Linked DNA regions of Homo sapiens. The protein of the gene in region 1 interacts with the protein of each later gene in a pairwise test. Each region holds a gene or a part of one and is shown on either strand. Other genes may lie near its edges. The genes, in order: GMCL1, FLYWCH1, SHQ1 and NFIL3.

Region 1 (7,243 bases):
TGACTTATATTTTATGTTCCATCGTAAAATTGGTCCCTTGCTTATACTCTTTTAACTTTTCTTTTTCCTCATTGACATGTTAAACTCACCTGGCTAAACCCCAACTCTTGTCAAGGGTTGCACTCCATGCCTGCATCCAGACAGATGAATGTGATTAAAGACAAACACCGTACCCCATTGGGTTCCACTTGAATGTGGTAACCATGAACTTGAAGTAGGTTAGTGCTGCATCATGATCTGTCTGCATTTTCCTAGTGAATTGATCCTCCCATTAGCTGAGGTAACTCATACCTTCTCTCCTTAAAAGGGCAATGCTCCCACCCTTATTCTTATCTGATGGCCTTGCTGCCTACTGCAATGAAAAGAGAATCTGTACATCATCTTACCAGTAGTTCTGCCAGTCTACCTGCACCTGTAGCTATGCGCTATGCATTTCATCTTATTAGAAAAATGAACTGCCTACTTCTATCTTAGTCCATTCCCTCTCTTTGTACTGGACTCTATCCATGCTCACCTATTCAAAAGCTTTGCTCCAGCCAGGCACAGTGGTATGCACCTGCAATTCCAGCTACTTGGGAGGCTTAGGTGGAAAAATTGCTTGAACCCAGGAGTTAGAGTTCAGCCTGGGCAATATAACGAGACCCTGTCTCTTTAAAAAAAAAAAAGCTTTGCCCTTACAGTTATCACCTCTACTAGGGCAGAAACTGTATGTTATTTACTGCTATGATTCCATTGCTTAGAGGAGTGCCTGGCATATAATATGTGCTCAATAAATATCAGTTAAATACTGAATTGCAATTCAGGGTGTCAGCCAAACACTTGAAGCCCTAACTACTTCTCTGTATCACACTACCTTATCTGATACTCTCACATTAACTATTAGCTGATAGAATAAACAAACTCGTGAACCCCATGATGATATTTAAATAACCCAGTTGTGTGTTACTTGAGTTAGAGTATTTTATTTTTATTTTTATTTTTATTTTTTTTTATTCTTTTTTGTATTTTTAGTAGAGATGGGGTTTCGCCATGTTGGCCAGGCTGTTTTTGAACCTCAGACCTCAGGTGATCCACCCGCCTCGGCCTCCCAAAGTGCTGGGATTACAGGCGTGAGCCACCACACCCAGCCCTTAAGAGTATTTTTAAAGCAAGGTGGATTTTAATGGGCTCTTAATTACCTTAGTGCTCTAGAAACTCTTAGTGCTCTAAGCTATATACCCACTTAGAGTTGCAGTGAAAAGCCTTATTATTGCTGGGTGCAGTGGCTCACGCCTGTAATCCCAGCGCTTTGGGAGGCCGAGGCGTGTGGATCACAAGGTCAGCAGTTCAAGACCAGCCTGGCCAACATAGTGAAACCCCGTCTCTACTCAAAATACAAAAAAAAAAGGCCGGGCACAGTGGCTTACACTTTGTAGTCCCAGCACTTTGGGAGGCCGAGGCGGGCGGATCACCTGAGGTCGGGAGTTCGAGACCAGCCTGACCAACATGGAAAAACCCCGTCTCTACTAAAAATACAAAATTAGCCAGGCTTGGCGCATGCCTGTAATCCCAGCTACTCAGGAGGCTGAGGCAGGAGAATCGCTTGAACCCGGGAGGTGGAGGTTGTGGTGAGCCAAGATCATGCCATTGCACTCCAGCCTGGGCAACTAGAGCAAACCTCTGTCTCAAAAAAAAAAAAAAAAAAATTAGCCGGGCGTGGTGGCAGGGACCTGTAGTCCCAGCTACTTGGGAGGCTGAGGCAGGAGAATCGCTTGAACCCGGGAGGTGGAGGTTGCAGTGAGCCAAGATCATGCCACTGCACTCCAGCCTGAGTGACAGAATGAGACTCTGTCTCAAAAAAAAAAAAAAAAAAAAAAAGCCTTATTATTTATGGTAGAATTGCAGTATGGAGAGATAAGGAAACTGATCATGAAGAGGAAAGTAGCTTAGAGAATTATGATCATTAAGGGCAGCTTTTCTAGCTTAGATAAATAGTTTTGGGTGGTAAGCCTTAAGAAAAAGTCACTGACAAAAAGTCGACCACCCATGAGGGAAATACTTGGAATGAGTTAGAGACAAAAAGACATTTTGAATTTTTTATTTTCTACTTGCTAATATGATAAACTGAAATAAGTCTTCTCTCTTGTATTTTTTAGTACTGCTGGCGTTGGACAGGTTTTAACTTCGGCTTCGACCTACTTGTAACTTACACCAATCGATACATCATTTTCAAACGCAATACACTGAATCAGCCATGTAGCGGATCTGTCAGTTTACAGCCTCGAAGGAGCATAGCATTTAGGTAGGATGAGATTTCCCCACCCCACTCCTCCTCACTCCAGAGAAAATATAAGAAATAAAACCTTGATAATTTACACCAACATTAGTAGAACTTTGGTAAGCTACAGTATATGTGGAAGTGGTAGGAAATGACGAGGCTCCATTCCTGTGAAATCTATTGTTAGTAATCAGAATCATAGGATCTAGTATGTCAGGGAGAATGAATAGGCTGGAATATATACCAGTAGGGAATATCAGCCTTGAAGTCGTTGCCTTGTTGCTATTCCTAGCAAATAAAAGATCCAGACTGTTGAAATATGTAGCAAGGTATGTTTCCAGGAAAACACATATTATCCTTAACTTTTTAAAGGATTTAATATGTTAAATTTTGCCCAGTAGTTGCTGGCAATCTTTTTCTGAGAGGATACCAGAAGCTGACAAATTGGACAGTAGCTTAATGAACATGATTTAAAAGTCATATATTTATACTTACCTTACACCAAATACAAAAATTAACTTAAAATGGATCAAAGATCTAAGCATAAGAACTGCAACTATGAAACTCTTGGAAGAAAACATAGGGGAAAAGCTTCATAACAATTGATTTGGCAGTGATTTCTTCCATAAGACACCCAAGCACAGGCAACAAAAGAAGCAGTAGATAAAATTGGACTTCATCAAAATCACAAACTTGTGTATCAGAGGACAGTGTCAAGACAGTGAAAAGGCAACCCATGGAATGAGAGCAGATATTTGTAACGCTACATTTGATAAGACATTAATACCCAGAATATATAGAAAACTCCTACAACTCTATAATTTAAAAAGAAAACTCAACTCAGCTCAAAAATGGGCCAAAGACTTCCATAAACATTTCTCCAAAGAAGATATATAAATGGCTAATAAACACATGAAAAGATGTTCAACATTACTAATTAGGGACATACAAACCAAAATCACAATGAGCTATCACTTCACACCTATTAGGATAGCTATTAGTAAAAACAGAATAGAAAAAAAACAACAAAAGTAACAGGTGTTGGCAAGGATGTGGAGTATTTAGAACCCTTGTGTACTGCTCGTGGCCATGTAAAATGGCACAGCCACTATGGAGCATGGTATGACACTTCCTCAAAAAAATTAAACAGAATTACCATATGATCCAGCAGTTTCTCTTCTATAGACCAGAAGAATTGAAAATAGGGACTTAAACAGATATTTTTGTATACTTATGTTCATAACAGCATTATTCACAATAGCCAAAAGGTGGAAGCAACCCACATGTTCACTGACAGATGCTAGAGAAACAAAATGTGGTATATACATAAAATAGAACATTATTTAGCCTTGAAAAGGAAGCAAATTCTCATACATGCTAAACATGGATGAACCTGGAAGACATGCCAAGTGAAATAAGCCACTCACAAAGCACAAATATTGTAAGATTCCACTCATACGAAGTACCTAGAGTAGACAAATTCATAGGTACAGAGGATACACTGGTGGTTGCCAGGGCCTGAGGGAAGGGAAAGTGGGGAGTTAGTGTTTAATGGGTAAGGAGCTTCAGCGAGGGAAAATTAAAATGTTCTAGAGATGGGTGCAGAACAATGTGGAAATATATTTAATGCCACAGAACTATATACTTTAAAATGGTTAAAATGATAAATGTTACGTATATTTTACCACAATAAAAACATTTATAAATGATTTCTCTTGGCCAGATATGTATAATAGCACAGGCTTGTCACTGAATGCAGTCAGATTACAGTTTGAAAAGACTTCCTAAAAGTCTTTTATCAAATAAAAAACAGAGGAAAAAGTAAATATGAAAGTAAGGAAGAGCTTGTTTAATCTGTGGTTTAAAAATCTTGTGTTTATTTTTTATTTTTTTTTTAATCCTAGATTACGTTTGGCTTCTTTTGATAGTAGTGGAAAACTAATATGTAGTAGAACAACTGGCTATCAAATACTTACACTTGAAAAGGATCAGGTATGTTCGATTATCTTCTGGTATGTCATCATAATATTTGTCTTTTGAATCCTCTTTTGAAAATTCTTAAGTAGAATTAACATTAAAGTGATGGCATTTTGACCTAAAAGTTGGTTTAAAAGTCTTTTGAAGGTAAAGATGAAAGTACCACATTCACTTATGCATAATTGACCCCATCCCAATGGAAGCATAATTAGGAGAAAAAAAGAAAACACTGTTTGAGGGGCAGGGAAACACTGATTATAAGGAAATAATTGTTTATCCTGAATATCAGCAGCACTAAAATTCATTCCTAAAATTTTAGGAATCTTAAGTGCTTTATCCATTGTGTACATAGTGCATTTATTTATACATTCACAGCAGGCATCTTAAAGACAATCCTGTATGTCTCCATAGCTCCGAATATCATAAGAGCATTATTCTCTAGCCCATTAGGTTCGTAAGATGGCAAACTCTGCAATGTTCCCCAGATTATCTCCAAAGCCATTTATTTATTCATACATCACACACATGGAGAAGTTTCAAAGTGTCATGATGAGAAAGTAGACCATTTTTAAAAGTAAAACTGAAAGCTGTTAAAATATTGAGGAACTTTATTTCTATTAAAAGTAATCATCATTCCAAAGGGCATAATGTTTTATTAAAGGATTCAAAGCCTGTTATAGTTTACATAAATTATGAGAAGTTAGTAGTTTTCCTCAGACTGAAGAGACTATCATAGAACATCCTTAGCATTGCAAGTAACCCCGGAAGTGATCATTGTAACCTCACATGCCCTATATGAGAACTTCTTTTAACAGCATTCTTACAGAGGGGGTCATCCACCCATTGTTGAAACTCTAACTGACCCCCATCTTACATGAAAGGTAATATGTAGGAATGTCCATTTCAAGGCAGGTATATAATGAGAAAGTCCAAATCTGCCTCCATCAGAACTCTCTGTTGGTCCTTCTTGTAACCTCTGCAGCTGAACAGACAATGACTATCTTTATCTTCTACCTGAAACTTCATGAAAAATACTGTCATGGCTCAAACCCAGCCAGAGACCTAAAAAAGCACCAGGCCAAGATAATAGTTGTATTCCCATGTTCCTTCAGCAAACATTTGTGTCCCCACCATGTGCTTGGTTCTCAGCTAGAAGTAGAAGAAATAAAGACAGGCTTGTGTTAATATAGCCTAGTGTAAGTAGCATGATAGAATTAGCTCAGAGTGTGCAACCTTGAGGGAGAAGACTCTGACCTGTAACTGAGCAGCTGCCGTGGTTGGGGGTGGTTATTGGAGGAGGAGGAGAAAGAAAGACAGCTCAGGGAAAACATCCTCTCCTGGAAAAGTGTTAAAGTGAATGCATACCTGAACCAAGCCTCAAATGGTGAGTAAGATTTCCGGAAGCAAGGGAATACATGGGTCATATTCAAGGAACTGAAAGATGGTTGGAAGAGTTCAGTATAACTAGAGCCAGGGCATGAGGGCTGTGGATGGAGTTTGGGAGATTTACTTTGGGAGTTGTCTCCGTGTTTTATATAGGTTATAGATGTTGTCGAAAAAATAGAAAATATGAGTCAGCTGAAACAACAATCATACATGTACCACTCAGATACATTGCTGAGTTTTTCCTTCACCTGTATCATTTTTGCAAAATTGGATCACAGTAGGTTAGCTATTTTGTAACCTGCTTTTTTTTTTAATGGTGAAAAACATATATATTTAGAATTTGCCAGCTGGATTCAACTTAGATGATCCCAATTTTTTGGCAGCCTCTAAAAGCAGCATGCTCAGGAGCCAGCTGAACATGGGCTTTCTTCTCTCCATCAGCCCTGATCACGGTGTTGATCTTGGCCACATTGGTGTCATAGAGCTCCTCCACAGCCTGTTTGATCTTATGCTTTTTGACCTCGACATCCACAATGAACACAAGTGCATTGTTGTCCTCTGTCTTCTTCATGGCCAAGTCAGTGGCCTGGGAGAACTTGTTGGTCGCATAGTGGTCAGGCCTGGGGGAGAGGCAAAATGGGGTCACCTGGCCTGGGCCCAGTAGAAGAAAGGCTTGGTCCTCTTTCAGAGCCCAAGGCCAGGTGAGCCTAGGTGCATCAGACAGTGAGGTAGTAATTGTAACCTTTTTTTTTTTTTTTCACTTTGTTGTACATAGCTTTTTTTGGTCAATAAATATATATTCACAGCATCATTTTTATGAACGGCATAATATTAGTTGTTTTGGCTATACCGTAACTTAGATAATTCCTCTTTATTGGATAAAGTTGTTTCTCATTTTTTTTCATTACTATAGGAAATATACATATATCTTTGTCCATTTTTATGATATTTTTAAAGCATAAATTCCAAGAAGTAGAATTCTTGTTGCATGGTGCATACAATTTTCTAATGGCCAAATTGCCCTCCAAAGCTACTGTCCAATTTATACTTCCCCCTGGCAGCAGTACAGGAGAGTATACCCAATATTGTATCTTATTCTTTTTCATCTCTATCCCAGCGTAGTAAATGTGAAAACAAATATTTGTTTTAATTTTCATTTCTTTTTGTTTGTTTGTTTTGAGACAGAGTCTTGCTCTGTCGCCCAGGCTGGAGTGCACTAATTTTTAGTAGAGACAGGATTTCACCATGTTAGCCAGGCTGGTCTTGAACTTCTGGCCTCAAGTAATCCACCTGCCTTGGCCTCCCAAAGTGCTGGGATTACAGGTGTGAGCCACCGCGCCTGGCCCTTAATTTTCAATTTTCATTTCTTTGGTTACTGTATTGTTGGGTTTTTTTATGCTTATTGAACGTATCATCTCATGTAAACTGACAGCTTATATTGTTCCTGTTTAATTTTTTATTAAAATTTCATTTTTTTCTTGCTAATTTTTAACAGCTTTTATATATTAAAAATACATTTGTGATACTCTATAGTTTTTACTTTTTTTTTTTTTTCCGAGACAGGTTGTCACTCTGTCACTCAGGCTGGAGTGCAATGGTACAATCTTGGCTCACTGCAGCTTC
Region 2 (7,243 bases), on another chromosome or scaffold:
CAGAATTCTCCAGACACCACCACAGCCCCGTCCCCGACCAGCCGAGGCAGCCACAGCAACAGCTCCGGCACAAGGTGGCTGCCACTGTGGGGCCCTGGTATCTCCTGAAGTGGGGGTGGCCTGGGGCCTCCAGGCTAGGATAGGGACTGGGTCTGCCTGAGCCCAGAAAGGGCTTTCTGCCTCCCAGGCCGTGATGTGGTGCCGTCCTCTGGAAAGGGCTCTGCGTACCAGGCCCACATGCCTGAGACAGGTGCCTGGCGTCCTGGTGAAGCACATGGTTTCCAAAAAGGTCCTGACAAGTCCCTGGGCATCTGAGCAGAAACGGGTCTCAGCTTCCCGCCTCTTCAGCCTCAAGTGTATCACAGGTGTCTGTGCCTCACTATCCTCGTCTATAACTGGGTCAATAAGAACGTTCTGCCGTCATAATGTAGGGACTGGAGGGGGGACTGGAAACGCGGGTGGAAACCCTTCGTCCGTGCTCAGCATGTGGCTGAGCTCTTAGTCCATTAGTCACTCTGATGGCCCCTTGTGGAGGGTGTTTATTGTGCACATTTTCCAGATGGGGAAAGTGGGGTTGGATGGGGCTGACGTACCTAAGGCTGCCAGGAGAGGAACTGGCAGAGCAGAAGCCTAGTTCCATCAGGCCCCCGGCCAGTCTTGGCCCCAGCGAGCAGTGAGGCAGCCCCATCTGCCCCACCTCCCTCCCAGATCCACGTCTAGAGTCCCCCAAGGGCTTCCACCACTGACGGGATTTTGCTTCCTTCCTTAGGACGGAACCACTGCACTCCAGGTTCCTTGCTGGGTGCTGAGCGTGGCCTGAGGGACAGGCCCTGGGTCCCGGGATGCCCCTGCCCGAGCCCAGCGAGCAGGAGGGCGAGAGTGTGAAGGCCGGCCAGGAGCCATCCCCCAAGCCAGGCACGGACGTCATCCCGGCAGCCCCCAGGAAGCCCAGGGAGTTCTCCAAACTGGTGCTGCTCACAGCCTCCGACCAAGATGAGGATGGGGTGGGATCCAAGCCCCAGGAAGTGCACTGCGTCCTGTCCCTGGAGATGGCTGGCCCCGCCACCCTCGCCAGCACCTTGCAGATCCTGCCAGTTGAGGAGCAGGGAGGGGTGGTCCAGCCAGCCCTAGAGATGCCTGAACAGAAGTGCAGCAAGCTGGATGCAGGTGAGGTGTGGCTTCCCGCCCCTGCCCAGCCACCCCGTGGGTTCCAGCGCTCCCAGCAGGCCCTGTACACCCTGCTTCAAGCATAGTGTCTTGTCCTTGCTCCAAGCTCAGCCTCTTGGTCTCTGATCCTGAGCGTGTCCGAGGCTGGTGGGATGATCACAGTCAGGTACCAGGAGCTCCTGGGAGTTGCAGTGACGTGCAGAATTCCTTCAGCTCCCTAAAAACATCCACTACCACCCCCAAAATAAAAACCAGCCCTGAGAGTCTGGGCTTCTTGCTTGGGAGCAGGAGGAGAAGGCACCTGCCATACTCAGGATCCCCACGCCCTCCCTGGCTCTCTGTGCCTGCGACCCTGAGCTTTGCTCTAGCTTAGCTAACCTAGCCTTCCCGTTCCCCCAGCAGCCCCTCAGTCCCTGGAGTTCCTGAGGACACCATTCGGGGGCCGCCTCCTGGTGCTGGAGTCCTTCCTGTACAAGCAGGAGAAGGCAGTGGGGGACAAGGTGTACTGGAAGTGCCGCCAACATGCTGAGCTGGGCTGCCGGGGCCGGGCCATCACCCGAGGCCTGCGGGCCACAGTGATGCGGGGCCACTGCCACGCGCCCGATGAGCAAGGCCTGGAGGCCCGGCGCCAGAGGGAGAAACTGCCCAGCCTGGCCCTGCCAGAGGGCTTGGGAGAGCCCCAGGGTCCTGAGGGCCCTGGAGGCCGAGTGGAGGAGCCCCTGGAGGGGGTGGGCCCGTGGCAGTGCCCTGAGGAGCCCGAGCCCACTCCTGGGCTGGTGCTGAGCAAGCCGGCCCTGGAGGAGGAGGAGGCACCCCGAGCCCTGTCACTGCTGAGCCTGCCGCCCAAGAAGCGCTCGATCCTGGGGCTGGGTGAGTACAATCCACTCCCCTGCTGCGTCCACTCGGGGCAGGGGACCCGAGGGCCCTTCCTCAGCCCAAATAGAAATGTGGGGTCCCACAGGGTCTTTTAAAATGTACTCAAAGCTAAAATGACTTTTAAAAATATAAATGTGGCCGGGCACAGTGGCTCACGCCTATAATCCCAGCACTTTGGGAGGCCAAGGCGGACGGATCATGAGGTCAGGAGTTCGAGATCAGCCTGATCAACTTGGTGAAACCCTGTCTCTACTAAAAATACAACACTTAGCCGGGCATGCTGGTGCGCACCTGTAATCCCAGCTACTCAGGAGACTGAGGCAGGAGAATCGCTTGAACCCAGGAGGCAGAGGTTGCAGTAAGCCCAGATCGCTCCACTGTATTCCAGCCTGGTGACTGGAGCGAGACTCCATCTCAGTAAAAAAAAAAAAAAAAAAAAAAAAATACATAAATGTGGGCTGGGCACAGTGTTCATGCCTATAATCCTAGCACTTTGGGAGGCTGGGGCAGGAGGATCACTTGAGCCGAGGAGTTCAAGACCAGCCTGGCCAATATAGTGAGACCCCATATCTACAAAAAATCAGCCAGCTGTTGTGGTGTGTGCCTGTGGTCTCAGCCACTTGGGAGACTGAGGTGGGAGGATCACTTAAGCTAGGGAGATTGAGGCTGCAGTGAGCCGGGATCACGCCACTGCCCTCCAGCCTGGACAAGAGACCTGGACCCTGTCTCAAAAAAAAAAATCAGAATTTTATCTGGTTCCCATGCAATTCTAGTGTCCATTAAGTTCAGGAAAGACACCTAGGCCTGCTGCAGTGATTCATGCCTGTAATCTCAGCACTTTCGGAGGCTGAGGTGGGCGGATCATGAGGTCAGGAGTTCAAGACCAGCCTGGCCAACATAGTGAAACCCTGTCTCTACTAAAGATACAAAAAACTAGCCTGGCGAGGCTGGGCGCTTTGGCTCACGCCTGTAATCCCAGCACTTTGGGAGGTCGAGGTGGGCGGATCACGAGGTCAGGAGATTGAGACCATCCTGGCTAACACAGTGAAACCCTGTCTCTACTAAAAAAATACAAAAAAAGATTAGCCAGGCGTGGTAGCGGGCGCCTGTAGTCCCAGCTACTCGGGAGGCTGAGGCAGGAGAATGGCGTGAACCCGGGAGGCGGAGCTTGCCGTGGGCCAAGATCGTGCCACCGCACTCCAGCCTGGGCAAAAGAGCAAGACTCTGTCTCAAAAAAAAAAAAAAAAAATTAGCTGGGCGTGGAGGCGCCTGCAATCCCAGTTACTCGGGAGGCTAAGGCAGAATTGCTTGGAGGCGGAGGTTGCAGTGAGCCAAGATCGAGCCATTGTACTCCAGCCTGGGCGACGTGGCAGGACCCTGTCTCAAAAAAAAAAAAAAAAAAAAAAAAAAGATGGCTGGTGGGAGAGTCTTGGGTTTTGGGTCCTAGGTTCAACTTTCAGCCCTCCCTGATGGTAGCTCTGTAGCCTCAGAAAATTGGCTTAATTTCTGGAGTTTCAGGAGCTTTATCCTAAGGTGGCTGTGATAACCTGGATTGTTGTGTAAATTGCACATTTGGGGCTTGGCAAGTGGCAGATGGGAGTTCTGGCTGTTTTATTACCAGTAACTGGGACATGGGCTTGGGTTCGAGGAGGCCACGTGGCTCCTGACACAGCCTTAAGGATCTGAGGTGGCCCCTGCCCTGGGCACCTGGGGTGGGAAGGGAGGTGCAGGGAACAGGGAGACTTATTTTTCACTGTGATCTTTTCGAACCATTTGAATGTATTATACCTTGTGTGTTTTATTCAAAAATGGGTAGATTTGTTAAACAAAACCTAAAAAAAATATGAGCAGGAGTGACAGAAAACAGAGACCACTGAGTCTGAGTCCAGGTTGGCCCCTCCCGGTGTAACCTTGATGCAACATTGAGCAGGCCTGAGCTGGGGTGACCTCACTGACAGCTAGGAGAGGAATGAGACTCTCCTCTGGGTCACTCGGTGGTAGGGGTGAGCTGGGGTGGCCTCACTGACCGCTAGGAGAGGAATGAGACTCTCCTCCGGGTCGCTTGGTGGTAGGGGTTCAGTGGGAATGGGTTTGGGGCCTCTGACATATCTGGCTCAGGAAGCCAGGGTAAATTTCAGCCTTAAAGGAGAAAGGCTCGTGTCAGCCCCCACAGTCTGCAGGGGCTGTCCCTCCTGGGCTCCTCTCCACCCCTGGTGATGTGACCACTTGGGTCTCTCCTCTAGGACAGGCCCGGCCCCTCGAGTTCCTGAGGACGTGCTACGGGGGCAGCTTCCTGGTACACGAGTCGTTCCTCTACAAGCGGGAGAAGGCTGTCGGGGACAAGGTGTATTGGACCTGCCGGGACCACGCGCTGCACGGCTGCCGGAGCCGGGCCATCACCCAGGGACAGCGGGTGACTGTGATGCGTGGGCACTGCCACCAGCCCGATATGGAGGGCCTGGAAGCCCGGCGGCAGCAGGAGAAGGCCGTGGAGACGCTGCAGGCTGGGCAGGACGGCCCTGGGAGCCAAGTGGACACGCTGCTCCGAGGCGTGGATAGTTTGCTCTACCGCAGGGGTCCGGGTCCCCTGACTCTCACCAGGCCTCGGCCCAGAAAGCGAGCAAAGGTCGAAGACCAGGAGCTGCCAACCCAGCCCGAGGCCCCAGACGAGCACCAGGACATGGACGCAGACCCGGGTGAGCTGCCTTCCTTTGGGGCTCACCGGCCCTGCCTTGACTCTTGCCTCCAGAGGTCCAGGGAGGGAAGGGGGTGCGATCAGGCCTACCCAGCCCCTGTCCCCTCCCCTGACTGCCTCTTGAACCTCCCCAGGAGGCCCTGAGTTCCTGAAGACGCCCCTGGGGGGCAGCTTCCTGGTGTACGAGTCCTTCCTCTACCGGCGGGAGAAGGCGGCTGGGGAGAAGGTGTATTGGACCTGCCGGGACCAGGCCCGCATGGGCTGCCGCAGCCGCGCCATCACCCAGGGCCGACGGGTGACTGTCATGCGTGGTCACTGCCACCCGCCCGACCTGGGAGGCCTGGAGGCCCTGAGGCAGCGGGAGAAACGCCCCAACACGGCGCAGCGGGGGAGCCCAGGTACCTGGGGGTGGGCTGGGAGCTGGGCCCCAGGAAGCAGGCAGGAGCCCCACACTGCCTTTCCCTCTCCATGCTGCGGCTCCCCCTGGCAAACGTCCTCTTCCCTTCTTTGAACATCCTAGAAGGAACTATGGCCCTGGCCTCCTACTCCTTGGCCCCCCTGATGCCGCTTTCAATGGGTCTCACCTTCCTGCTCAGCCCAGCCTCCCCCTTCCAGCCTGACCTGCCCCACAGTAGCAGCAGCAGGGATAGACCTCCCTGCCCTCCTCTTCCTCCGTTTGTCTTAAGAGTTCATAGTAGTAATAGAGGGTGTTGACTGCACATGGTCAGTCTCGTTGCTATGGTGGAAGGCTGTCTTAACGTCTGAGTGGTTAAGGATTGAGGAGGTGATATTTACTTACATGCAGCCGGTTTCTCCTCTCGGCCCGCTGTTCCATAGACACCCATAATGTCCTGAAACGCTGGCCCGAGGAGGGTCCCGGCTGTCTCCATCTTTATCCACACGGTCGGCCCCCCGCAGTGCCTGGTGTTTTGACTTCACAACCACAGTTGCGTAAATGTCCCCATAGCGTCTGGCTGAGGAGCCATTTCATCGTGGCCTCCTCCACTCACCTGCTCTTCCTTCACGCCCCAAGGCGCTGGCCTCTCTTTCCAGTGGCTCTTCCGGATCCTGCAGCTTTTGGGTCATGTGAGTTGCCTCATGGCCCTAAAGTTCTCTCGGACTTGAGAGCTGTGATTGTCTTTCTCTTTTTGTTCCATCTCCAGAGAGACAGTGCTGCGAGGTCCCCGCCTCGTCCTCACCCCCGCTCCTGACCCCACAAGTAACTAAGCAATTGTTTCTTAGGGTCTTGGCTGCCCTATTTCCTAAAATGTGCCTCCACTACTATTAATTGGTTTTTCCATTTCCTTGTCAGCTACTCAGTGCACTTCTTGCACAGGCTTTTTTTTTTTTTTTTTTCTTTGAGACGGAGTCTTGCTTTATCACCCAGGCTGGTGTGCAGTGGCGTGATCTTGGCTCACTGCAACCTCCGCCTCCCGGGTTCAAGCAATTCTCCTGCCTCAGCCTCCTGAGTAGCTGGGATTACAGGCGCCTGCCACCTCGCCCAGCTATTTTTGTATATTTAGCAGAGACAGAGTTTTACCATGTTGGCCAGGCTGGTCTCAAACTCCCAACCTCAGGTGATCTGCCTGCCTCGGCCTCCCAAAGTGCTGGGATTACAGGCGTGAGCCACCATACCCGGCCACGTTTGGTTTCACTTTAGCCTAGAAACCTGCTCGCGGCTGACTGGGGGGTGCTCTGTGGTCCCATCTTCCTAACACAGCTCTGTCTTCTCTGTGGGGTGGCAGCTGCTGCGTTTGTTTGCCTGCTTTTGTGTGTCCAGGTCGACCCCACCTGGATCCGATCATCCACAACCGCAGGTTGCTGGAACCTCCCAGTGCAGCCTGGCCTGGGGGCAGAGGCCGGGCCCAGCTGTCCCTCGGGGTTCACTGTGCTGACTCCCTGCTTCTGGGCCTGCCTTTCTCTTTCTTGGTTTTCTTTATAATTTTGTGGTTTGGAGAAGTCCTGCCTCCCGTCGTTTCCTGGGCCGGTCCCGGGAGGTAGCACGTTGAGGCCTTTCATGTCTGAAATGTCTGTCGCTTCCCTCCGCCGGAGGGGCAGCCTGGCCTCCGTGGTGTCACAGGTGCAGAGCCTGCCCTTGAACGTCCCTGCCGCTTTTGCGTGACTGATCCTCTGTGTGCCGTCAGCTTTGCTTGAGGTTTTAGGGTCTTTGCTCCCTCCCAGCTGTACCTGGCTGTGCTGGGGGCCTTTTTAGGCTTTGGGCTTGTGTCCTTCATCGTGGGGTCATCCTCTCGTGCTCTTTGTTAACTTCCCCATCATCATCCCTTTCTGTTGCTCCTGTTAATCAGATGTTGATCCTCCCAGATGAGGGCGTCTTTTTTTTTTTTTTGAGACAGTTTCACTCTTGTCGCCCAGGCTGGAGTGTAGTGGCGTGGTCTTGGCTCACTGCAACCTCTGTCTCCCAGGTTCAAGTGATTTTCCTGTCTCAGCCTTCTGAGTAGCTGGGATTACAGGTGCACACCACCACGCCCAGCTAATTTTTTGTAT
Region 3 (7,110 bases), on another chromosome or scaffold:
ACCAGCCTTCACAACATAGCAAGACCCCGTCTCTACTAAAAAAAAAAAAAAAGTTAGCTGCGTGTGGTGAAACATACCTGTAGTCCTAGCTATTTGGGAGGCTGAGGTGGGAGGATTGCTTGAGCCTAGGAGGTTGAGGCTGCAGTGAGCTATGATCCTGCCACTGCACTCCAACCTGGGAAACAGCACAAGACCCTGTCTCTGAAAAAAAAAACAACAAAAAAACAAAGAGTACAATTGTGGATAAACTTATTCTTGACAAAAATGTAGTCAAATGGAAATATTGTAATGCCACATATGTATTTTATATATTATATATATATATATATATATATATATATATATATATATAGAGAGAGAGAGAGAGAGAGAGAGAGAGAGAGAGAGAGAGAGAGAGAGAGATATGGAGTCTTGCTCTGTCACCCAGGCTGGAGTGCAATGGTGCAATCTCAGCTCACTGCAACCTCCACCTCCCAGGTTCAAAGGATTCTTTTGCCTCACAGCCTTCCGAGTAGCTGGGATTACAGGTGGTGCCACCACACCTGGCTAATTTTTTTGTATTTTTAGTAGAAACAAAGTTTTCCCATGTTGGCCACAGCAGTCTCAAATTCTTGACCTCAAGTGATCCACCCGCCTAGGCCTCCCAAAGTGCTGGGATTACAGGCATGGGCGACCGTGCCCAGCCTGTAATCCTATATTAAGTGAAGAAAGCAAATATAGATTATGACATTCTTTTGTTGAAAATACTTCCCATACTTTTATGAATAGGAGTCTGAAAAGATGTATGCCAAAATAATAACAGTGGTTAAGACGTAGTTTGCAAATACTGTGTAAGATTCCACCACCTCCCCAAAATGGCTCAGAGAATGAACTAGCGCTATAAACAACTTATTCAGGAAGCTATTTTTCAACATAGGTTAAAGCTCCATTCTTTGAGATAACATTGTTTTAATCACCTATATGCATGCCACCTTCTGGAAACAAGGAGTATTTCACCATTAAAAGACTTCTAACAATAGAACTTGGTAATAAAGCTGACATTGGAATTGTTTATAAAAACCATTTTTAATTTAACATTTAATTTGGAAGCTTATGGATCACAATCAGGGTTGTTAGACCAGAGGAGGGGCCAATTTAATATAATGAAAGATGATAGGTTACACACTTGTCCTACATAAGTTGGTCATGGAAAAAACTTTATCTTATTATTTTATTTCATGTTCTCTATAGGCCAGAAGGAAAAACTATTTTTAAAACAGTGGAAGGCCATTCAAAAGTAAGCTTTCAGAAAATGAAAAGATAAAAAACACTGCAACATTTGAATGCTCAAAAATGATGAAAAATTGCATTCCTGTTTTCCCCTCTAAACCAGAGCTAATTTAAAACATTAAAATAATGTCTTTATTCTCAAGCAATGTCTGTATTCAGAAATAGAAACTCAATTTGATCTATGAATCAATATAGCTATGTCTCAAAAATGAACCAAAGTAGGAAAAAAAGCATGTTGCAGAATTACTTTCATAGTGTGAGAATGTGCCCATATAAAGTGGGTCTAAACACAAAGCAACAGGGTCCATAGAAATGGATGTAGAAATAGAAAAGGGTCTGAAGTGATAGCTAGGACTGCCTTTGAGGAAGCAGGAGAAAGAACCAAAGTTGCATGGCAGCCAAAAGGAACTTTATGTTCTTAAGTGAGAATGAATCTATAACTTATATTTACCACTAATAGAAATGCAAAAATAAGAGAACTATTGCCTGCAAGAAAACAAAAACCAACAGAAACCCAAAACAACAAAACCTTGTTATATACTTGAAACTATCCGTATTTTGTGATTTAGCAGATGCAGTATATATTTCTTATAATGACGGCAGCACTGAACCATGTTGTCTGTTTTCCTGTGTTGCAGTCCTGTGTGTGTGTGTGTTGCCAGACACATAATAAAGTACCCAGGAAATGCACAGCTCTAGTTTGCAAAGTGCTTTCAATTAGAATTTCCTCATGGATAGCATAGCTTGTTTCAGTTGATTCTCTGGCATTAATAATTTAAAAATATTAATGCTTGTGACCTACAGGAATGAGGTCCCATGGCAGATGTAAAGATTATTTCTTTTTTTTTTTTTTGAGATGGAGTTTCACTCTTGTCACCCAGGCTGGAGTGAAATGGCACAATCTCGGCTTACTGCAACTTCCGCCTCCTGGGTTCAAGGGATTCTCCTGCCTCAGCCTCCTGAGTAGCTGGGATTATAGGCACACACCACCATGCCTGGCTAATTTTTGTATTTTTAGTAGAGACGGAGTTTCACCATCTTGGCCAGGCTAGTCTCGAACTCCTGACCTCAGGTGATCCACCCCCTCGGCCTCCCAAAGTGGTGGGATTACAGGTGTGAGCCACCGCTCCCGGCCAAGATTCTTTGTAAAGAAGCTAATTTGGAATAGTTTAGTCACAGGCCTATCTCAAGGGACCTTTTGAGAGCTTTATTAAATCAAAGTTGGCATCAATTCATTGTCAATATTGAGTGCCTATTACTTGTAAGGCTCAGTATGGTCTAAAGCAGGCAGGCTTGGCTTTAGAATGTGAAACAAAGTAGGTGGTAATAACAGAGGGAGTCAACTCTGTAATAGTGTAGAGCCTGGGCCTAGGAATCAGACTCACCTGGGTTTCAATTCCCATTGCACCACTTACTAGCTGTGAGATCCTGTGCAAGCCAAGGGAATATATAATGCCTACTTCATAGAGCGGTCAGGAGGGAGAATGAGATCATTACAAAGGGTTTGCTGCAGTGCTGGCACATAGTAAATATTCAGTTAATGTTAGCCCCTGTTACTATTAATTTTTTTTCTGAGTCCTAATGAAGTTTCAAGAATGTCTCCTTAGAATCATAAAACAGCTGGAGATTGAAAAGACTTTTGAAGTTTTCTGGTTATCTCCACTGTCCTAGGAGAGTACTTTTCATCCCTTTTCCACTGATACTTAAAACCACGGAATAAATACCACAACTGGATTATTCTAATTAGTGGTGGAATAACAGGAAACAACATGTGTGGAAAGGCCAAGGGAATATGTGGGGGAAGAGGGAAACCAGCGGGAGAGGCACTGAGAGAGTGTAAGGGGCACACTCCAAAGGGAGAAAATACAAGGAAGACAAGTAGAAAAAAAGACAGAAAAGATGTCCTCAGACAAGTGTAAGGACAAGAGTGAGAAAAAGGAAAGAAGGGGAATACAGAGGGACCTTAATTTGTGAATGCAGTCACCGACACGGTTTAAGAGTCAAACGTTCTGAGTTCTAATTACTGTAAAATGCATGGTTATAAAACGTACTGATTAACCTCTCTGAGCCGTTTTCTTTAGAGTTTGCAGCGTAGATTAGATGAGATTAGCGGGACGGACGCTCTGTTAAAGAGAAAACTCTTCAAATAAGCCGTTAAGAATGAGAGAGAAAGCTGCAGAAAAAGAGAAGTGGAAAGAGAGAGGGAGGAAAGGGAAAGTGTAAGAGGAATTGTTCACAAGGCAGGTGAGAACTAAGGGAAACCACTGTAACGGTGCTGCTGTGGCTACTGCGGTGACTACTTCAGCACATCAAGCGTTGACAACTTGCCAAGTTCGTTATTAGAGTTCTACATGCACAATTTCATGCTACCCTCACAGCATTTCTATGGGGCTAGGTTCTCGCATTATCCGCGTTTTACAGAAGATATAGAGAGGTTTTGTAACTTTCCCAAGGTCTTACAGCTGAGAAGTTGTGGCCAGGAAGGGATTCAAACGCACGTCTGTTTACCTGTCAAGCCAGTGCTGTTAAAATCATCTCTAAGAACCTCGAAAAAGGCTCGGTTGCTAGTCATCCCGCCGGTTCAACGCCGGCTCCCAGGCACCACTCGCCACGCCCTTTCTCCGCCCGGGGGTTTTGAAAGTTCCGCCTCTTCTCGAACGGCGTCCCGTCTCCATGGAGATTGGCGTGGGGAGAGACTTCCTGCCTTACGCGCGAGCACTTCCGCCTCGAGCCGGAAGCTCCGTCCCTCACACCGAGAGTTCCTGCGCGTGGGGAGTTGGAGAGTTTGCGTGGCGGGAACGCGGCGGCAGTGAGAGCGAGCGGCGCCGGCCCTTGCGTCCGGTGCGGCGATGCTGACCCCGGCGTTCGACCTCAGCCAGGATCCGGACTTCCTGACTATCGCCATCCGCGTGCCCTACGCCCGGGTCTCCGAGTTCGACGTCTACTTCGAGGGGTCTGACTTCAAGTTCTACGCCAAGCCATACTTTCTCAGGCGAGTTCGGGGTGCCTGGCCGCAGGAAAGGCGCATTCGTTAGATAGCTGCTTTAGAGGGAGAATGCAAGGTCGAGAGAGCAGTGCTCGATTGCGCGAATGCCTTTTCCCGACGTTTCCGCAGCTTCTCTTGGTGCCAGGGAACTGCCCTCTTCCAGGGGTGCGTTTTAGATGCTGCGGAAGCCCTTTTCCTTCTTGAGCTTTCTTAAATCCCATATCAAAGGATTGCGGAATCACTTGAAAAAGTGACGTTTGGACCGTGTCACTTTCCCGTTTCTGCCCTGTCGCCCTAGTTCTCGTCCCGTTCTGACTTGTTCTGTTCTTTCCTTTCACTCCGCGTTTGCTCTCCCAGTCTCTCCCTTCCTGGGAACGGCGCGCGCTGACATCTCCGTGACTTCCCAACCCGTCGGTCCTTTTAACTTTGCCCAGGCCGCCTTCTGTTGATCTATCTCTTGTCTGTCCGCTCCCTACTTACCGAAATTCTTACCTTTTTTGGACCTCTTGACACCAAATTAGCCTAGTTCTCCTGCTTCCCTGCTGTCTGCTGCTCTTCTGTTTGGTTTTGTCCCTGAAGTGTGGTTGTTTCCCCCAAGTCTCCGTGAGGGTCTGTCAGCACTTGATCTGTTTAAATTATTCTCCTTGCAGAATCGTAACCTTGGTAGCAGCTAACACTGATAACTCGTAGTGTGGTGGACAAGCAGTTCCGTTAAGTGCTTTATGATGGTGTATCTCATTTAACTTTGACGGTGATCCTTAGGGATAAGCACTGCTATTAACCCCATTCCACAGAACCCGCTGCTACATATTCATCCTAAAGTATTGCCAATCTCTTGTCCTTCTCTTTATCCATCCTCCTAATCTTTCTGAAGTGTAGCTGCATCCTACTTTTCCCACCCAAGTACTTTTGTGGTACAAACCTTCTCCACCAGTCAAGGTGGTTTTTTCACTGTTGCTGAACCAGTTTTGCTCAGATTTCCCTTAGACCATATAACGTCCGTATTTGAATTATTGCACTTTCCAGTTTTTTAATTCACTTATTTCTTTAATTTATTTATTGAGTTTCAGTGTTGGTATTATTGTGCTGAACAAGACAAAGTCCTGCCCTCATGTACTTTTCACTGGGGAGAGGAAAACAATAAACAGTGTACTTAATTGTGGTGAGTGCTATGAGGAGAAAGAAGTGCACTAATAGAGAATGAAAAAGGGCCCATGTTTTATAAAGTGGTCAGGAAAAGCCTTTCTGGGGAGGCGATATTTAAGCCAAGATGTGAAGAATAGGAAGAAGATTATGGTGGTAGCAAATATTTATTGAATTTTTACTCCAGGTTAGTGCTTTATACGGATTATCTCATTTGTTATTAGGACAGTGTTACAACGAGGCTTTATTATTTACCCGTTGCCGTGGATGGATTATTTGTGGGCACCCCCCCAACTCTTGTCCCCAAATTCATATGTTAAAGGTCTAATTCCTGTGTCACTTCTGCTTTATTGTATTCATCAAAACAGTCCCAGAGCCTGCTGAATTTTAAGGGGAGGGAACATAGACCTTCATGGTTGGGAAGAGTGCTGTGAGATGGGCATTCTTTGATAATACAGTTTGCCCCCAGATGTGGTGGCTCACTCCTGTAATCCCAGCACTTTGGGATGCCGAGGTGGGCAGATCACTTGAGGTCAGGAGTTTGAGACCGGCCTGACCAACATGGTTAAACCCCATCTGTACTAAAAATACAAAAAAATTATCTGGGCTTGATGGCACGCGCTTGTAGTCCTAGCTACTTGGGAAGCTTGAGGTGAGAGAATCGCTTGAACCTGGGGGGCGAAGGTTGCAGTGAGCCAAGATTGCGCTATCGCACTCCAGCCTGAGTAACAGAGCGAGACTGTCTAAAAAAAAAAAAAAAAAGAACATACAGTTTGCTATACCAAGGATGAATAAAACCTGGTCCCTCTCCTTGAAGAATGGAGACTGTAGCTGCGGAGGCCCCATGTAAGCAAATATAATTTTCTCTGCAGTAAGAATTTAACTCTAGGCTTATAGAGTTTAGGGGAAGGGAGCTGGTAATAATAGCTCACATTTTCTGAATGCTCACCTGTTGTGCCGGCCACTAAGCTCTTTGCATTATCATTTCATGCTCATAGTAACGCTTGGATAGTTACTGTTATTTCCCCCCTTTACAGAAGAGGGATTTATGATTCTTGAAGAATAATTAACTTGTACAAAGAAGGTTGTTACACATCTGGTAAATGGCAGATCTAGGAGTTAATTCAGATTCTGACACTAAAGTTAGCGTTTGTAACCATTATAACAAACTCATCCATAAACTGACCCCTTATTCTGGCTTAGAGGGATTTTCATTCTGAAAATGTATTGAAGCTTGAGGAAACCTTGGGATTAAAGGTCCTGGGCCTTTTGGGACTGTCAGCTGTTTTTGTTTTTAATCATATTTAGTAGGAAACAAGGGGGAGGGCCATGGGAAGAAAGGAAGCTCAAATTTCAAGTTTGGAATGATATGGAGTGGGCCTGATATGCCCTTCTGATAAGTTTAAATTATCTAGGCAACATGAGGCAGCCATAGACACTTTTTAAAATAGAAAAGTGACAATTAGATTCCTGTTTTAGAAAAATTATTTTGGAGCCTCAGTGGAAGACTGATTGAACTAGGGTAAAACTGGAAGCAGGGAAATCACTTCATTTCTTTTTTCTTTTTTTTTTTTTGGACACAGAATCTCACTCTGTTGCCCAGGCTGGAGTGCAGTGGCAAATGATCTCGGCTCACTGCAACCTCCCCTTCCTGGGTTCAAGTGATTCTTCTGCCTCAGCCTCCTGACTGGCTGGGGTTACAGGTGTGCACC
Region 4 (7,755 bases), on another chromosome or scaffold:
AAAGTTAGGGGACCGAGAGGCAGAGGCTGGAAGACAGTTGAAATCTTAAAAACTATAACGTCTAGGTTGTGGCTGGGATAGGTAGGTGGCAAGAGCAAAGAGAAAAGTGGATGTTTGGGGGAATGAAGGAATCCCAGGAAGTAATGATCTGAATGACTGGAGAAAGGCCAAAGGAAAAAACTAAGAATAATAGAGTAAATCAAGATAACTAAATTTAAAAAGAAAAAAGGTCAACAAAGGTAGAAAAACTACAAGAAAAGGCAAAGCGGAAGAGGAAGACAGAGGTGAAAGATTAAAAATGGCATGAATAGCAGAAATAAAAGTGCATGAGTGGTGGAAAGAAATATCATTCCAGGAAGTTTCTGCCTCAACAGTCAATGACTCATTGCATCAAAGCCAAAATCCCAGCAAAAAGCACACACTGATGGGCGTGGGGAGGAGAACCTCACTAAGGCTACCATGCTAGCTCACATCTTAAAGCCTCCACTTGAAAACAAAACAGGTCTGGTGCTGTGACTCACACCTGTAATTCCAGCACTTTGGGAGGCCAAGGTGGGAGGATTGCTTGAGCCCAGGAGTTTGAGACCAGCCTGGGCAACATAGAGAGACACTGACTCTAACAAAAAAAAAATTAAAAAATTAGCCAGGCATGGTAGTGTGCACCTGTAATCCCAGCTACTTGGAAGGCTGAGGTTGGAGGTTTGCTTGAGCCTGGGGGGGTCAAGGCTGCAGTGAGCCGTGATCACTCCACTGCCCTCCAGTGTGGGCAAGAGAGCAAGACCCTGTCTCAAAAACAAAAACAACAACAACAACAACAACAACAACAAAAACGGTATGCTATGGATTCCCAGAAACTGAACTTCTGTTCCTGGAGTTTAATAAAAAGACACAAGGTGGTCCATAAACATACTACAGTGGAAAGAAAATGGTCCTGGCACACAGGAGCCCTGATGCAGGCTGCCGGCCACCAGACCAGACAGGAGGTCACCAAAGGGCTTTTAGTTATCGAAGTTTTTTCTACAAAGAAATCCATAAGTCCAATGCACAAAACAGATAGGGTAGAGCTGCCCAATTTGGTTGCCAGGTAGGCAGCCTGCTTTTTAGCCACTGAGTCCCCCGTCTCCACCCCCTGTTCCCAGGACATCTCTGTAGAACTCAGAGGACTCAGACTGTCCAGCCTCTGGGTAGGTAAGTCCTGCAGTCTTTTATTTTTTAATGAATTGCTTGCCTAAACTGAAAATCAGGATATTTTACCAAAAAAAAGAAAGTCAACTTTCTTTTGAATAATTGGAGCTGTGGGCTGTGCAGTCTTTTATTTTTTAATGAATTGCTTGCCTAACCTGAAAATCAGGATATTTTACCAAAAAAAAAAAAGTCAACGTTCTTTTGAGTAATTGGAGCTGTGGGCTCCTGGAAACAGCAATTGATGAGAGAGCTGAAAAACAGTCTTCTTCAGTGGGTCACTTTCTTTTTGCCACAGTCCACGTGTGGCTAACGTCCTGAATTCTCATTATCCATCTGACTTTACAGTTACTCCGGCCTAGTGAGGTCCACTGTAAAATCCCTGGGATATATATATGGCCTCTTGGGGATGTTCCAGCTCAAGACATTCTGCAGCTGTAGAAAAATTATTACTATATTAAATTAAGTTGTTACTAAATTACAAATTCCTATTAATTCCCATTTTAGTAAGGAGAAGTCACTGTTTTAGTCATTCTGTTCTCAAGCTATAGCTCTTATATTTGCTTAGTCAGAAACCATGTTGGCAGTATAATAAAATGAATTAGAATGTGGTTGATTGTCTTCTGCTGGTAGTTCTCATCCCTGTCCAGGCACCTCCTCCCTTGCCCCTGCCCTCAATCCACCCCTAGCACTGAGAGGTTGCTGAGAGCAAGAACCCCTTCCTCCTCCTCCTGAGAACCTTACAGCCCAGCTCCACCATCAGGCACATGCTGATGTCTTCCTAGAAGCCTCCCCACCCTGGTTAATTTGTTTCAAATATCTTAGGTTTTTATGCTCCATTTACTCGAGTTAATCTGCAAATACTTACCTACTCTGTGAATGTTCTAGGATATAATATTAGATACATCATCACTTCGGCCCTGGGGACAGATCCTTCATCCTGTTGTTTAGTGGTGTCCTAATCACCAGGAGGAGCTAAAGAGTTGTTTTCTAAGCTGGTATCTCAGATACCTTTCACACTTCCTCTGATTTCCAAGTTAGATGGTAACAATGAATGATGCACAGATATAATACATACACAATCTAAAATACTCCAAGTAAATATAGGAGCATTCGATTTCAAAATTCAGCATAAAGAATAAGTTTCCAGGTTGAGAGAACTCCTCCAGCATCACTGCCTGGGGTGGCTCCAGGCACGTTCTTTACCTGTCTTGAAGGTCGAGTTGTCTTTAAAGAAAGACATTTACTACAACGGCTTTGAAATTCCATGAAATTATTCAAAATGCAGAACAAGGTCAGAACACGTGAAGGGGAGGGTAGATTATGCAGGACAGCCCTGGATTTCTAGACAATAGCTGCATTTCTGACCCCAAAAAGGCAACTAATATGGATATGATTTTGATTTCATCTAAGAGAGGTTCTCAAAGCTACAAATAAGCATTGTAAGGTTTGGGCAAAAAGGAAACTATCAGTAAATTTGAGAAAAGTGGCCAGGCACAGTGGCATGCGCCTGTAATTCCACTACCAGGGAGGCTGTGGCCGGAGGATCCTTTGAGCCCAGGAGTTCCAGGCCAACCTGGACAACATAGTAAGACCACATCTTGAATTATTATATATGTATGAGAAAAGTGGAAATTATAAACTAAAATCAGGATTTGTTCTCATGAAGGTAGTCAAGTTTGGAAAATGTGTAGTGGAGGGGATGTGGTTCTTGCATTAGTCAGCACCGGGAAGATGGTGTCGGGGAACACGCTAAGCCCATATTGTACGTCTGAGTTTTCAGAGCCTTGTCAGCAGAGCTGTACTACCAGATAAATCACGAACAAGAGTGCGTTCAAAACCACAACGCTGCCCTGGAAGGCTTTCCAAAAACTCAACTGATAGGTGATAAAAATTTTTTAAATATGACTTGCGTTATTATGATATTAACTGTGCAAGAAGGGGAAAGGTAGAAAAGACAATCTTGGCGAGTAGATAGATCTGCTGCTCATGGCAGACACTAGGGATGGTACCTGGGTGTTCACTCTGCTCTTCTCTTTACTTTGGTTTTTGCTTTTTAAAAACGAAAGGAGCAAAAAGAAGTGGAAAGTCGTGGAGGCACTCGGCCCAGCCCCCACGTAGTTCAAGGAGACCAGGAGGGAGCTGGCTGGTGGAGGTCCTGCCCACCTGCCACACTCCGTATTTGGGCAAGCCTGTGAGTCACTGTCGGGAACATGGCTCCCTTCGCCAAGGCCAGCACTGACCACTATCCGTGTATCGGTAAACGCAGGGAGTGTGCCACGTGCCTTGACAGTCTAGCGCGACGACTTAAGAAGTCGCGGCTAGGTGCTCTTTTTTCCATTTTTTTACGTCTCTTCCGTAGCCCGGGAATTTGGGAGAGAAGACTACCGTATCCAGTTAGACGCAGAAATAACACTAAGCAGCTATCAGCTCAAAATCACAGGAAGAGATCCCGCGCGGTCGTCTCAAGCCCCAGCACCAAACGACAGTGGGCGTCCCAGCGGGGGCACCCGAGCGCGGACCTTCACATCCTCCGAGGAACGCCGCACCCGCGTGGCGGGGGTGGGTAGATGGACCTCAGCGAGCCTCGTTTCCCAGTCGTGTTACGCAACAACTTTGCAGCCGTCATCTTCGCCCTAATTGTGCAGGGGGCGGTGTTTGTGCGTGGAGCTTTCCCTCCCGGCTCCGGGCCGTCGCGGCTCTCGGGAGAGGCGCCGGGACATTTTAATCGCTGCCTCCGCCGCGCAGCCCTGCGCAGCTGCCCGGCCGCGCCAACCCCTTCCCCGCCGCAGCGCGCCCCGAGTGTTGGCAGCTTGCCAGCCGCCACCCCCCGCCTTCCCTCCTGCCCACCCCAAGGTAGAGGGCTCCTCTCGGGAGTGTGCGGGGAAGGGGAGGCCGAGGTCCGGGCCACGCCCGGGTAGCCGCAACCCGCAGTGCTCAGTCGGCAACAGGTAGCCCAGCAGGCTGCGGCTCTCAGGAAGACAAAAAGCGCCTCTGCGAGCAAGTGAGGGTCGCGGGGAGCGCAGAGCCACCGCGGCGACCGGGAGGGTGAAGGGAGCCAAGAGCGGACGGGGCGGTGGGACGGGGGGCTCCCGGGCTCCTCCGCAGGCTCGCTCCGGTCGTGTCGGCCGCGTGGGCCGTTGCGCAACACTCGTTGCGCCGGGAATGGGGCGCCAGCCCTCGCGGGCGCTCGGACGGCGGTGGCCCTGGCCGGGGAGGGACGCGAGCTGGTAGTGGCGCCGCCGCGGAGGGGGAGCTGAGGGCGGGGAGGCGGGGCGGGGCCGCGGAGTGCCCGCCCCGGCCCGCCCCTGCCGGCCGCGGCCATTGGCGGCGGGCCGGGGGCGGGTGCGGGCGCGGCGATTGGGGCCGCGGCCGCCAGTCACGCGGGGCTGGCGGGCGGCGACGTAGCGCGGCGCTCGGAACTGACCTACTAACACACATCTCTCCGCGCGGCCACGGCGCCCGCGGACCCGGCGCGCCCGCCCGCCTCCCGCGCCGCGCCCTCGCCGCCGCCCGCCTCCCGCCGCGGCCCCGGAGGCCCGGCCCGGCCCGAGCCCCGAGCGCCGGCGGCCCGACTCCCGGCCGCCCCTTTCTTTCTCCTCGCCGGCCCGAGAGCAGGAACACGGTAAGCGCTCCGCCCACCGCCGGCCGGGGGCCCGGCGACCGCTCCCAGGGCGCGCTGCGGGCGGGCGGGCGGGCGCGGGGTGCGGGCCGCGCTGTGTGCGGGGTCGGGCTGTAAGCTGGGCTCGCCAGCGGCGGCGAGTGCGCGCGGGGCATTCATTACATAAACTTTTGCTGCCTTGTCAGGATGGGACTCGCCACCTTAAGGTGGCTGCTTTGATTGCAGCGCCTTCGCGCCGGCACGTAGTCCTGGCTGGTTTGCGCTCTCCCCCCGCTGCTGTTGCATAATGTCTCCTGATTTCAGGAAAATTGATGTTTTGGTAAAGAAGAGCGCCAGGCAGGCTGAGCCCTCTCCGAGCGGGAAGATGCTCTTTCCTCTCTAGTGTCTTTCTTTCTCGTTCCTTCTCTGGGGCTGGCGGCGTAGGGGGGAGAGGAATGGGGGGTTGAGGAATGGGGAATAGTCTTAATTTGCTTGGTGAGAAAAAGGGTTGGTAGCGTGAACGGTGACGGCATTCGGAGAATGCCTGCGCGGCGTTTGTTTGTGTCAGGGGCTGTGTCTGCACAGACGTTTTCCACCCTGTTTGTCGTCAGCGTGTTTTACAAGCCCTCGGGAAGGTTGTGGGATTTGTCCTTTCATACATTGCATAATCTGCCCACGGTGAAATGTTGGCAAGAATTGCGGGCTGATGTGGGAATATGCGCGTATGTGTGCAATGATTTGGTAATTGAGGCGCAGCGTTGGATATTAGATCGTTATTTACGTCTATATTACGTCCCAAATAAACAGGTTTTAAAACGATACTACAAAACCTAAAAGCAAGAATTGCTCGCATTGAATTCTGATCTTGGGTACTACTGGGGTTCGCCCTTTCAATGTTCTCAGCTGTTATTTTTAAATCTGGGACGAACCATTGTGACGTTTACCTCCCCACCTTCCTAATTTTAATGCATTCCATTCGATCAGCCCTTTTTCTCACCTTATTGTCATTGCTTTTTCAGACACGACAAGACAAATCACATAATAGTTTCCTGGAAATGTTGCATTATGTAACTGCCGAATTTGCTGGCAGTGAGCATAGAGAGAGGGAGCTAATTACGTGATTTTATAATCTTGCTACAAAGAAAGTAGGACAGTCTCAGCCTTTAAGAATGTCACTATAACAGTTTTTTTTTTTTCCTTAAGGATATTTTAAACAGGAAAGTAGACAACCGGGTAAGCATGGAGTTTGCTCATGCTGCCGAATGTGTGTCTTTTGCCCTAAATGAAACGCACGTTCTTCTAAATTTAGCCCTATCACATTTTAACAATTGTGGCCTCGCAGTGCTATTTCTGGTGTTTTCTCCAGGGCTGTGTGCAAATACAAGTTCAAGGCCATTTGCTGTAGTTTTAACTCCACGCCTTCGGAGACCTTTGATAAGATTGTATTTTTAGGAAGGCATTTCGCAGCGCCCGGTGATTTGCTGGATGCTGGCTCCCATTTATGTTTTTAAAGGACACTTTAGGAAACTGCTGTTCTCTGAGAACAGCAGGGAATGGCCAAGTGTCATCTTCTGTTCTTGGCTTTTGTAAATAACAACAGTAAGTGAGGTCAGAAGTATTTATTTACCCCCAGACCAGATATGACCTATGGGAAACAGATATAGGTTAGTAGATTGTTTTTTTGTCTGGATACCCTGGTTTTACTTATGTGAAGATGTGTGAATATGTAATTTACCCAAATATTAAATTTCTTCCTGGACTGTTACATAGTGATTATGTGTGAATATATGTATATGATGGGATGTATATATAACGTAACATTTAAATTAAGTGCAGGGTTTTTTTTTGTGGGAGGTGGGGGGTGGACGTCTCTGGAACAGAGTATATTACCCCAAATAATTGCAGTCGCTTTCCAAGAAGCTAGTTGCTCTAGGCCCCCAGCTTCAGACCCCGACCTACTTTGCGAGCTCGGGTGGGAGTCCCAGGCCTGTAGGGGCCGCGTGGCGCCACCTTCCGATCGCGATCTCCAATGGCGAGTCCGTGCGGCCCCCAGTGCGCCGCTCCCTCCTGCGGGCCGGTGGGGTCTGCGAGAATCCGGGGCTGGGGGCGGGTCTGGTAGTGGCGGGCGGGGACCTCGGGTCGGGACCGAGAAGCGCCTCCGAACGGCAGTTATACTGGGGCTGCTCAGTGGCCTGAGCTCCTCCCTGCCCCCTCCCCACATTCCTTTGTTCTGGCGCGGGGGGTCCTCGCGGCGCCGAGGCCCCGCTGCGCCGCCCACCCGGAGGGAGGAGGGTCTCTGGGAGGCGCCGCGTGGGGGCGCGGCCCGTGGAGCCCGGGCGCTAGGGACCGGCCGGGGCCGGCGTACGGGTGCGCTCTGGGTTCGCCCGGGCCGCGGGAGCCAGGGAGCCAGGGAGCCAGGGACCCCGGCTCCCGCACGGGGCAGACAGGGGCAGCGCGGGCGACCCGGAGCGCCTGCGTCTCCGCGGCCCTCCTTCCAACAGGGCAAATCCAGGGGCCTGACTCCGCGCCTGTTCTGCGGTGAGGTTCAGAAACCTGCAGACACCTTTGTTCCAAGAGTCTTCATTGTATTTCGGAACCAAGCGCGTCTCCATTCTTGAAGTGAAAAAGACCTTAAGAAAAACCTCCAAACGTCCACCGGCCACAGAAATTGGGGGTGGAGGCGCTCCAGTATTGATAGTGATTAAAAGGAAGGCCTCAGCTTGACTTTGGCCAGTTGAGTTGAGCCGATTTTTTTTAACCTTTAATTTATGTGGTCAAAGGCTAGAGGAGAGAGAACACTGATCTCCAGAGTTCAAAATAAAATCTAAACGCCCACATAGACGCTGCTGTCCTACTGTAAAACTACAGTACTTTCATCCTCGCATAAAGACTTCCAAGATTGTACCCATGCAGTAATTCATGGAGACATCACAGATGTTCTCCTGAAGCATATCAACGCAATCTGCTCTTTG

What was found.
Region 2: the proteins of GMCL1 (region 1) and FLYWCH1 interact in binary tests that used the Homo sapiens proteins (3 or more experiments, as listed by UniProt).
Region 3: the proteins of GMCL1 (region 1) and SHQ1 interact in binary tests that used the Homo sapiens proteins (3 or more experiments, as listed by UniProt).
Region 4: the proteins of GMCL1 (region 1) and NFIL3 interact in binary tests that used the Homo sapiens proteins (3 or more experiments, as listed by UniProt).

Annotation. Positions count from the first base shown.
Region 1 is NC_000002.12:69,867,584-69,874,826, forward strand, and holds part of GMCL1 (germ cell-less protein-like 1), read left to right. Parts: intron 1-115; exon of another isoform or gene 116-218; intron 219-2,135; coding exon 2,136-2,281; intron 2,282-4,161; coding exon 4,162-4,249; intron 4,250-7,243. UniProt on the Homo sapiens protein: Possible function in spermatogenesis. Enhances the degradation of MDM2 and increases the amount of p53 probably by modulating the nucleocytoplasmic transport.
Region 2 is NC_000016.10:2,928,844-2,936,086, forward strand, and holds part of FLYWCH1 (FLYWCH-type zinc finger-containing protein 1), read left to right. Parts: exon of another isoform or gene 1-74; intron 75-769; 5' UTR 770-842; coding exon 843-1,167; intron 1,168-1,566; coding exon 1,567-2,037; intron 2,038-4,286; coding exon 4,287-4,739; intron 4,740-4,872; coding exon 4,873-5,136; intron 5,137-5,245; exon of another isoform or gene 5,246-5,771; coding exon of another isoform or gene 5,772-5,824; exon of another isoform or gene 5,825-7,243. UniProt on the Homo sapiens protein: Transcription cofactor. Negatively regulates transcription activation by catenin beta-1 CTNNB1, perhaps acting by competing with TCF4 for CTNNB1 binding. May play a role in DNA-damage response signaling.
Region 3 is NC_000003.12:72,845,349-72,852,458, reverse strand, and holds the start of SHQ1 (protein SHQ1 homolog), read left to right. Parts: upstream 1-4,013; 5' UTR 4,014-4,118; coding exon 4,119-4,261; intron 4,262-7,110. UniProt on the Homo sapiens protein: Required for the quantitative accumulation of H/ACA ribonucleoproteins (RNPs), including telomerase, probably through the stabilization of DKC1, from the time of its synthesis until its association with NOP10, NHP2, and NAF1 at the nascent H/ACA RNA.
Region 4 is NC_000009.12:91,420,692-91,428,446, reverse strand, and holds the start of NFIL3 (nuclear factor interleukin-3-regulated protein), read left to right. Parts: upstream 1-4,614; 5' UTR 4,615-4,807; intron 4,808-6,018; exon of another isoform or gene 6,019-6,447; intron 6,448-6,742; exon of another isoform or gene 6,743-6,825; intron 6,826-7,755.